2 separate regions of the Homo sapiens genome follow, and region 1 is linked to region 2. Evidence: fine-mapped expression QTL. A gene starts in region 2. The other region holds a variant in brackets. All regions are shown on one strand. Distances are between the middles of the regions. Region 1 overlaps MBTPS1 (membrane bound transcription factor peptidase, site 1). Region 2 holds the start of MBTPS1 (membrane bound transcription factor peptidase, site 1).

What was found. PIP is the estimated chance that this variant, and not a neighbour inherited with it, causes the effect.
Region 1: its variant is fine-mapped to the expression of MBTPS1 in blood mononuclear cells (TOPMed, PIP above 0.99).

What each region holds. Positions count from the first base shown.
Region 1 is chr16:84,054,704-84,059,703 of GRCh38, forward strand. It overlaps MBTPS1 (membrane bound transcription factor peptidase, site 1), which reads right to left. Exons shown (of 23, transcript NM_003791.4): 21 at 4,599-4,725; 22 at 1,302-1,432. Among named protein-coding and RNA genes, the nearest start is that of SLC38A8, 14 kb to the left of the region's middle. RefSeq lists enhancers at 537-1,130, 1,131-1,723. The variant G/A (reference allele first, on the strand shown) is at 2,861.
Region 2 is chr16:84,114,599-84,119,598 of GRCh38, forward strand. It overlaps MBTPS1 (membrane bound transcription factor peptidase, site 1), which reads right to left and starts at 2,344. Exons shown (of 23, transcript NM_003791.4): 1 at 2,137-2,344. It overlaps MBTPS1-DT (MBTPS1 divergent transcript), which reads left to right and starts at 2,445. Exons shown (of 1, transcript NR_186375.1): 1 at 2,445-4,565. It also overlaps the pseudogene LOC648774. RefSeq lists silencers at 1,835-2,264, 2,665-2,764 and an enhancer at 2,915-3,074.

The sequences.
Region 1 (5,000 bases), 60 kb before region 2:
TTTTCTATGACGGCTGGATTCATCAGAAACTAAATGCGAGCTAATTTCACTAGCTGGGCTTGCAGGGCATACATCATTTTTAAGCCTTAGCTAAAGTAACCCAGGCTATTAATAAAGAGTGGATGAGAGCAAAGAGCAGCCACTTCCTGTGGGGTGGAGGCTCGGTGGATCTCTGCTGCCCTTCCTCCCTGGGATCCCCGCAGACGGATGATCAGGCCCAGCTATGCTTCTGTCACAACCTACCGAAGGGAGGCCCAGAGGCGCTCTGTGTTTCTCTAAACACAAGGGAAGATGGGCACGTCTCTATCCAGGGGAGAAGGAGGGGCCTGTGGTTCCAGCTGAGTGGGAGGAGGAGAAAGGGGGCGTGGCGGAAGAAGCACCGCTGGCAGTGCCCCGCCTCTGGGAAAGCCCTTCATGGAGGGGACGTGTGGCTGAAAGCCAGGAGAGGCCATCAGAGGACCCTGGTTCAGAATGTCAATACGACTGGGCAAGGCCAAGGGCTCTGGAATTTACCTTCAGCGCACCCCGTGACCTATGCGCAAGGCCCTCAGGACCCTGGCACCACCACGTGGTGTCCAGGGCTGGACTGCACAGACAGGGGTGCCCCTTCCTGATCCCATTTCTGGACAATTCCTGGAACCCAGAGAAACTCCTCTTGGTAGCTATAAACTCTTTGGAAGAGTACAGGGGACTCTAGAGCAAAAGAACTGCCCAGGCTCGGCTGGAAAGGCCTGGTACCAATTGCCTTGGGTAGTGGAGAAGAACCTGCCCTAGGCAGTCTATGTAGCCAGTCAGGATCCCTGGAGAGACAGACAGGATGAGACCACCTAAGGGACACACCCCAGCTCAGTCAAGTCCCTCCCAGGGGGGCAGGGCAGAGAACTGAAGGGGCCTTCTGGGCTGAGGGCTGGGAGCCAGGGCGGCTGCTGCCATTGGCTGGGACCCAAACCAGCAGACAGGCATCCTGTAAGGGACGTTAATAGGTGGCTGGCAGAACTTTCATAAAGAGCGTGCAAGTTACTTTGAACATGTTTAAGTAGATCACCCAGCCGTTGTAAAATAAATTCAAATGTGAAAATCTAGGTAGCATTTTCTAAGGGAAACAACAATCTCTTAATCTGTCAGGCCTGCCCTTGCTCATGCTGGTTTGTGCCACAAAAGAAGCCAAGAGCCAAGGCCACCACAGCTCCCAGGAAGGCAGAGACAGGGAGAGTCTGGCCCGCCTCCTGGGGAGGGAGGGAGACTCCTTTGAACAAAATACAGGATGACTGAGCACAATCACAAAGCAGCCGAGAACTCACCTCCAGGAATGTCCCAGGCGCCGCTCTCTCCAGGGGACAAGGGCCTCACTTGAGGGCGATTCGATCGAAAGTTGGGTAACACCACCTTGTCCAGGTCAATGGAGAGTAGCTTCTGATGTTTCCAAAGGTTACTTCAGGAAAATGGATTAAAACAAAACAAAAATAAGCCATTGTACTAGTCTAGGTACTAGTCTAGGAAGTTCAACTGAAACTCAAGACAGAGCAAGTGATCTACGGGGAGATGTGAAATGCCATTTGCGTCCACGGCCACCTAAATGCCACTGACAGCAACTATGGTGGCCGTTTCCACGTCCCGAGGGAGAAAGATCAAAATCAAGTCCCTGTTCATGAGATTCTACTGAGTTTACAATATGACCAGCAGGAGCCTGTTTTTGCATAAAGCTAAACATGACCAAGCGCCTCGGGAGGACACTCCAAGCGAGGCCCTGGAAGGAGCCTGTCAGGGGGAGGAGCTGAAGCCTGCTGAGTGGACCTGAGCCTGGGGCTATCGAGGTCCTCTCCCTAAGGCCTGGAGCAGTCGGAGGCAATGGTGATTCCAGAACCACTGCATATAAGGAAGTGGGCAAACTGGTGCCGGGAACCAGACAGCATCTTTGTCTCTGAAGAAACCACTGTCTCCAGGGAGAATACGAAACATACAAGGAACCAACAGTGGGAGAGAGTCTGAGCAGCAAAACGTGGGGTCCCCATCTGCCTTGCCTGCAGGCGGGGGACGATCAAATGAACGTGTGCGATTCCTGCACTCTGTGGTGCACAGTATCATTATTAACTCTGGGATCTGAAAAACTCGTTCAGGCCAATACAACTTAGACCCGAAGAAGACAGAGAGGTTGATACGCTGGCAACAGCAGCACAGAGCTTGGGAGGACACCGGAGCTAGAGCGAAGAGCGCGATGGGAAAAACACTACTCTGGCTTAAGTGAGGGGGAAGAATACAGTAAGTTTGCAAATTAAAATTTCTCTATTTTTCTGTTATTTATTCATTTGGAAACTGTCAGCCTGTCTCTTTCACTTTGGGCAAGTGAAAGCAAAGACGTCCAGTCCTATCAGCAATTAGGCTGAAAGTCAACGCCAAGCTGGCGGGCAAGGGCTGGTCTGAGTAGAGGTTCCCTAGGCAGGCAAGAGAGAGACTCCCACTCGATACTCCCAGCTCGGCAACTGCCTGAATGCCAATGAGCACTCATTATAACCCGCCCTATTTTATAGGATTTAATTTTACACTTCAGGCTTAATCAGTCTGAAAGTTAAACTGACAGTGTTAAGTTACGGAATCAATGACATTTAGGCTTTATGACTTTGTAGCTGAATATCTATGGGCTATATTTCCATTCTAACAGTGATATCCTGTTCCAGAATCTCATTCTTTGGTGATGGCACTTTCTAGTGGAGCAGTCATGGTAACAGTCCACACCCATTACCATGTGGGTGCTTTACAGCATACTGACGGAAGGACTGAGGAGCCACCGGAGCAGGAGTTCCTCTCAGGGAGGACGCTGACACTTCCACAGCTGCCCTAGGTATGGGCACCTGATGCCAAC[G/A]AAGAAGCCCAAAGCGCCTCTCCACTTCACAGATGGAAGCCTGCCCCCAGCACTGGGCTGACAGCATCTGGAGCTGTCTCCTGGTCTCAAATCTCTTTTGGAGACTCAGAATATGCGTCGATCTAGGTCTCTGGGGACCGAGAATAATTTTCAACAAGATATGAAAAGCAAGATAAATGTAAAACCCAGCAGCGTACTGAGAAGAAGGAATTACTGAGTGATTGTGAAAATCAAATTCCAGGAGCTGTCCATTATCAACATGCTGGATGGGCCGGTTCAGTATGTGATGGATTATTTGATGTGAACAGGTAGATAGCCAAGGATAGAAAGGATATTGTTATCTGCTTCAAGTCCTGAACAACACTGTGGAGAATAATTGGGTTTCTGGAAATTCAGCTAACACTGTTCACTGAGTATGAATTGCTGACCATGGCTGGAATATAAATGCTGGTTTGAATGCTAGGCTAATAGAAGGTTATAAATAAATAAGATGCAAAAATGGAAACTTATCAGAAATGTTTAAATGATGAGATGTGAACTGGAATGGAAAAGTACCCAGTGATTAAGGTTCAGGAAGAAAGCTACTGATGAGACAATGTGATGATTCTACCATTTTCCTGTGTTCTATTAAGCATATTCGAAATGAAGACATACGGTCAGTGCGTGGTGTGTTCAGCACTTTCGGTTTATGATGAGGAGTAAAGGCGGAAGGCAGCCTCGCCACCTTCACACGGGCACTCTCCTCTTCGCCTTACAGGACGGAAGGTGGCCTCCGTCCCTGGCCCCATACCATCACTGGAGGAAAAGAAGGCAGGCAGGGGGCCTGTCAAGAGGGTAGCCTCCTGCCTGAGGGGCTGGGGAGAGGGGCCGGGTACCAGGCGGCCAGGGGGCCTCGGAGGGCAAGACTCCTGCTTGATGGGGTGGGAGGTGTGCCTGCCCGGCCACGGACACAGCTCTGACAGCTGTCCCTGGCTTCATCCCCTTTCTCAGGAGAAGCTCCCCCTTTCTTCTTATATTGTCCTGTTTGGGCCAGGGACGTCACAGAAAAAGTAAGGGGGTGGCATCTGGAGAAAAAGGGGACCAGCCATGCCGAGCTGGTCCTAGCCACAGAGGGAAACAGCAGGTCCACCTCAAACACTGGGTACGGAAAGGAAACGATGCAAATGAAGAAGCCGAGTTAGTGAGCTGGAGAAGGGATCCAGGCGGCACTGCAAACAGGAGTGTGGAGACAGCAGCAGAGGTCACAGCCTGCCATCGGAGGCGGGTGCTTTCACCCCCAGTCACAGTCAGCACAGGACGTAATGACACAGAAGCATGCTCTTCTTGGACAGGCTGCAACCGCGGCCCCCGGGGATGACAGAAGAAGGGAACTATCTGTATCTTATCATCAATGTCTGAAACAGGGAACACACTGCAGCCGGCAGCTCTTAACTCCCCAACCACAGGACTTAGAGCTCCAGCTCCCATGAAATCACTCTGTTGGATCCCAGCTTTTTAAAAAAGAATTAACCAAATGTAACAAAATGCTAATTATCCAAAGCACTTTTTATGCAGGATACCACCAAAGAGCCTATTTCCAAAGGCCAATACGAGGTTCACTAAATAACTGTCGCAAATGACAAGCTTGAAGATCTGACAATTCGATAGTGATGTCAGTAAAATTCCATTCTCTCCTATAAGAAAAGCAATGACTCACAAGCCCCGTGGAAAGAGTGGAAGGGCACAGGCGGACACTAACCTGGGCGCCGTCTCGTTTAAAGGCTGTGGCTTGGCCCAAGACAAGCGTGGACAGGCTGGTAGAGGCCGAGGTTTTGGGTCTCCCAAATGGGCCTCCAGAACCTTGGAGTACCGATGAAGATGGTTTCCTGTGGTTAGCAGCAACATCAACAAAAAGGAAAATCATCTCTATTACTAAAATGCAAAGGAAAAAGGAGGGCCTTATTATGAGTCTGTCTGCTTTCCCACAACACAGCACAGAGCCCCTGTGCTCTATTAAGCTATCCTCCATGAGCCGCAGGAGCCACGCCTGATTGGTTCCTCCCGGACAATGTGTGTTTCCATTGCTGAAGGTGGGTGAGAAAATCAGAACCGTTCCCTTGAAGATGGGCAGATGTGTGCACAGCACTGGCTGGTCAAACTT
Region 2 (5,000 bases):
CGCGGGCGGATCATGAGGTCAAGGAGTCTGAAACCAGCCTGACCAACATGGTAAAAACCCGTCTCTACTAAAAATACAAAAATTAGCCGGGTGTGGTGGCGGGCACCTGCAGTCCCGGCTACTCGGGAGGCTGAGGCAGGAGAATCGCTTGAACCCGGGAGGCAGAAGTTGCAGTGAGCCGAGATCCACCACTGCACTCCAGCCTGGGCGACAGAGCGAGACTCTGTCTCAAAAAAATAAAAATAAATAAAGCGTTTCCTCAAGCAGAATTCCGCAGCACTGATGGCAGCAATGTACAGTTCACCTTAGCCTTCAGTCTTCCAAGTTTTTTTTTGTTTTTTGTTTTTTGAGACATAGTCTCACTCTGTCGCCCAGGCTGGAATGCAGCGGCGTGATCTTGGCTCACTACAACCTCTGCCGCCTGGGTTCAAGGGATTCTCCTGCCTCAGCCTCCCGAGTAGCTGGGATTACAGGCGCCTGCCATTGCGCCCAGCTAATTTTTGTATTTTCAGTAGAGACGGGATTTCACCACGTTGGCCAGGCTGGTCTTGAACACCTGACCTTGTGATCCGCCCGCCTCGGCCTCCCAAATTGTGGGATTACAGGCGTGAGCCACCGCGCCCGGCCCAGCCTTCCTAGTTCTTGTTAACCTCCTGACTAGAAGAGCTCCCACTTCTTCCCTAGGTGCTTCAAAGGTTCCGCAAGCTCTGCATTGGAATTTTCCCTTTTTATATAGAAAGGACCAACTCTTGATTATACGGGGTGCCTGGGGAGTGCAGTCGTTTGACACGTGTCTGGGTCAGGTCCCAGCTCCCATTCTCAATCAACAGTTTTGCTGTCATCCGCATCACACATTAGAGCATAAAATAAACTTTTATTTGTCAAAAGTGTTCTGCATAAATGCTTAAACAAAATGTGGTATAGCCATACAACTGAATATTATTTGGTCATAAAAGGAATGAAATCCTGATTCATGCTACAACATGGATGAACTGTGAAAACATGCTAAGTGAAAGAAGCCTGACACAAAAGGCCGCATATCATATGTTTCCATCTGAATATACGAAATAGTCATTAAAGGCAAATCTAGAAAGACAAAGTAGATGAAAGGTTGCCTGTGGCGGGGCCTGGAAATGGGCATTGACTACAACTGGGCATCAGAGGTCTTGGGGTAACGGAAATGTTCTAAAAGTGGATTTGGTAGTGGCTGTGCTGCTGTAAATTTACTAAAAACCACTGAATAGTACACTTAAAACAGGTGGATTTTATGGTATGTAAATTCTACTTCAATGAAGCTCTTACATTAAAAAATAAGTATAAATAATAAAAGCGGATTCTCCAGATTGAAAAAAAAAAAAATGAGAGGAATTACTTCTCTTCTGCAAGCCCTCCTTTTCGTAGACATACAATTGGAGACCTTGACGTTAGGAGGGCTTACCTACACAGTTCAGACTAAAGGATGAGTCTCCAGAATTCAACGCAGGTCGTATTCCACTCCACGTAATTTCGAAGTGTCAATCAGAATCTAATAACTTAATTTGTGTAGACAAATAGGCCAAGATTCTCAGGGGCTCAACCCAATATGAAAGGTAAACATCTTAATAAAAATACTGACGATCCACAACGGTCTTAGGTAGCGCAACCATGCCAAGGCGAGGCAAGATTTTTAAGAAGCTACAGGTTTAAAAGGCAATCTGGTTCTGAGAGTTCGCCGAACAGAATCCCCGCATTTCCAAAAACCAGCAGCGCAATATGCACAGACCGAGATAAGGCAAAGAATCGACGTCTTTTAAACCTGACGCCAGCACTGCCCCGGAAGCGCACCTAGAATTGAGTCTGTCTGGAGGCTCCGGGCCAGAGCAGGGCGTATTGTTTCACTCGGTGAATGCTCATTTCACGTAAAGAAAACCAGGCAACGGAACAAGCTGCCGGAGCGCGCAGACCCCCGCAGGGCCGCGGTACAGGCACGCTGTGTCCAAACAAGCGCCGGAGGCCCCGCGCCCACCTCCCCCGACCCGGCCCGGCCCCCGCAGCCCTCGCCTCGGGGCCTCGGACGCAACCGGCACACCTGAGCGAGCGGGCCGCCGCCGCTAGGCGGAGCGGGTCGGGGAGGCCGCGCGCGGGCGGCTGACGTACCTGCGCCGCCGGGAGCTCAGGGCCGGCGGGCCCGGGATAACGGCGCCTCCGCGGCGAACACGCCTGGGCACTCCATTCGGGGCTGTTTACTCCCAACTCTCGCGAGACTGGGCGACCGGGCCAGCGAGGCCCACAGCTGGGAGCCTCAGCTCCGCCGACCCAGCGTGCCCTGTCTGTCCCGCGCTCCCGGGGCTTGCGTGCGCGCTCTGGACGCCGTGGGCAGCGGGACCACGCCGGGAGGATGGACGAAGGTCTCGCGACATTTGCGGCGGCGGGGGCCGGTGGCAGGGTGGAAGCGGAGGGGCGTGGCCAGCGAGCTGCCAGGCGGCGAGAACGCGCTGGGGGAACCCTTGGTCCGCTCTGCGCGTCGCTCTAGGATCCCCGAAAAGGAGCACGGGCGCGAAAGCGGCCAGGCTGGGCCAGGATCTAGAAAGACTGCCTGGCGCAGGCTCCCTGCCCCCGCGGGCCTGCTGTCATGGACTCGTGGAGAGCTCGCTTCCCGCGCGGACCCTTCCTGCAGGGGTCCACGTCCAGGCACCGGCGGCTCGGACACCCCACCCCCGGCCGGGCACCTGCCCTGGGTGCCCCTTAACCCGGGCGGTAGCTCGTTAAGATGGCGAAGTGTCCGGTCCGGAACACGCGAAACCCCAAATCCCGCCTGCCCGACCTCCTGACCCCCGGCCCCACGGGACGACAGACTGGGCCTCCCGACGCGCAGCGCGCTGCCGGGACACCGGTGCGTGCGAAACGGAGGACCTTTGTAACGCCACGTGTTTGCTCTTTTTGAAAAAACAAGAATAAATGTGTTAAACTGTCTGAAAAGCTTGCCGCCTAAAAGATGTCTGGGTGACTTAGATGCTAGGATCAGTTTGTTTTCAATGTAAATGGACCAGCCCGGACTCCGTACGGCACTAGCAGGGGACTGAAAGCGTCTTCAGGTACTGCTGGTGGGCGGTGATGCGCTACAGGCCGATCAGACAGTTTTGTGTCTTTTGGAACTTGACACTGCACCACGGTAATGCTGAACTGCACCAATATTACAGATCACAGCGCATCATCTTCCTTCAACATGATTTAACACAGTTGACTTAATATGGTGGATAAATGTAGAATCACAAATTACCATACCCCACCTCAGGCTTCTACTTCGTAATTTTGAGCAGGTTGTTTAACCTCTTTGTACCTCAGCTTCTTCATTACAAAAATAGGGGTACTAGCCAGGCGGGGTGGCTCGCGCCTGTAATCCCAGCACTTGGGGAGGCCGAGGCAGCCGGATCACTTGAGGTCAGAAGTTTCAGACCAGCCTGGTCAACATGGGTGAAACGCCGGCTCTACCAAAAATATAAAAACTTAGCTGAGTGTGGTAGCGCATGACTGTAATCCCAGCAACTCAGGAGGCTGAGGCAGAGAATCGCTTGAACCTGGGAGGCGGAGGTTGCAGTGAGCTGAGATCGTACCACTGCACTCCAGCTTGGGCGACAGAGCGAGACTCTGCCTTAAAAATAAATAAATAATTTTTTTAAAAAATAGGGGTACTAATATCTACCTTAAAGGATGAGGGTTAAATTAAGTACACACATAAGCCCTAGCGCAGTGGCTTATGCCTGTAATCTCAACACTTTGGGAGTCTGTGGCGGGAGGATCACTTGAGCCCAGGAGTTTGAGACTAGTCTGGGCAACAGAGACATGTCTCTATAGTTGTGTTTGGTTTTGTTTTTACCAGGTGTGGTGGTGTGCACCTGCAGTCCCAGCTACTAGGGAGGCTGAGGTGGGAGGACTGCCTGAGCCCAGGAGGTCGAGGCTGCAGTGAGCCATGATTGTGCCACTGCACTCCAGCCTGGGCAACACAGCAAGACCTTGTCTCAAAAACAAACAAAAAGCATACTCATAAAGTGCTCGGCTCCTATATGATTCAATATGTGGTGGTGGATTCTTGAATCCTTTCCTGACTCAGATCTCATACGATTTTCTGAACTTTTGGAGAATCCTTGCCTCTCTGCATTTGCAAACCGTCAAAGGCACTCCCTTCTGCCACCACACAAAGCATTTGATTTTAAACTTGACTATGTCCTTCTGTTCCAACTTTAGGTAAATTAATCTTGGTCAGGGTTCTCTGAACAGCCCTTTAGTCACTATGCCATTGAATACATGGCCCTACAGCTGGAAACTGGGGTAGAACAGTGATTGCAGGCATCCATCATGTGACAGCGAGGCCCCAAAGAAGGGGAGAGAATGCCACCACCACCAGTTTCAGAGAATGCCTATACACTGAGGGGACTGGTGTGTGGGAGAGAAGTTACTTGGAGAGCTACCAAGACAGCCTGAGCTACAGGATCCTGGTCTACCACTGGTGGATTCCCACCACTCTGGTTCTAAAATAACTTCCTAAACTTGTGCTTCACATACAGAATAAAGCATCTGTAATTCCATGGGAAGGTAAATCTTTATTCAAATGAAATGTTATTTTAAAGAGTAATAGCTGATGGCACAGGCACTAGCCAACCCTGGGAAAGCCTCCCTGGAGTTGTGGCTCCTGGAGTCCCAGCAGCCACTCTGCAGAGATCTTGGAGGTCCTAGTAAACCTGCCGGTGGCACTACAGGCAGGCTGCTTTTTTGGCAAGGGTGGCTTTGCTGAGAGCATCAAAATCTTGGAGGCAAACACCAAGGAGGTGTTCTCGGGCAAGATCGCACCTGAGTCACTGCTGCTCAATCCGCACCCAGAGGAGACGTCCCTGGAGACGTCTCCAGCCTCTCGCTATACTCACTGCAGCCTCGCCCACCAGCACATCTCAGGTGTCAGTGGCTTTTTCAAGGACAACTTCATGCTCCTGGTGCTGGAGCTCTGCCACCTGAGACCTCTCATG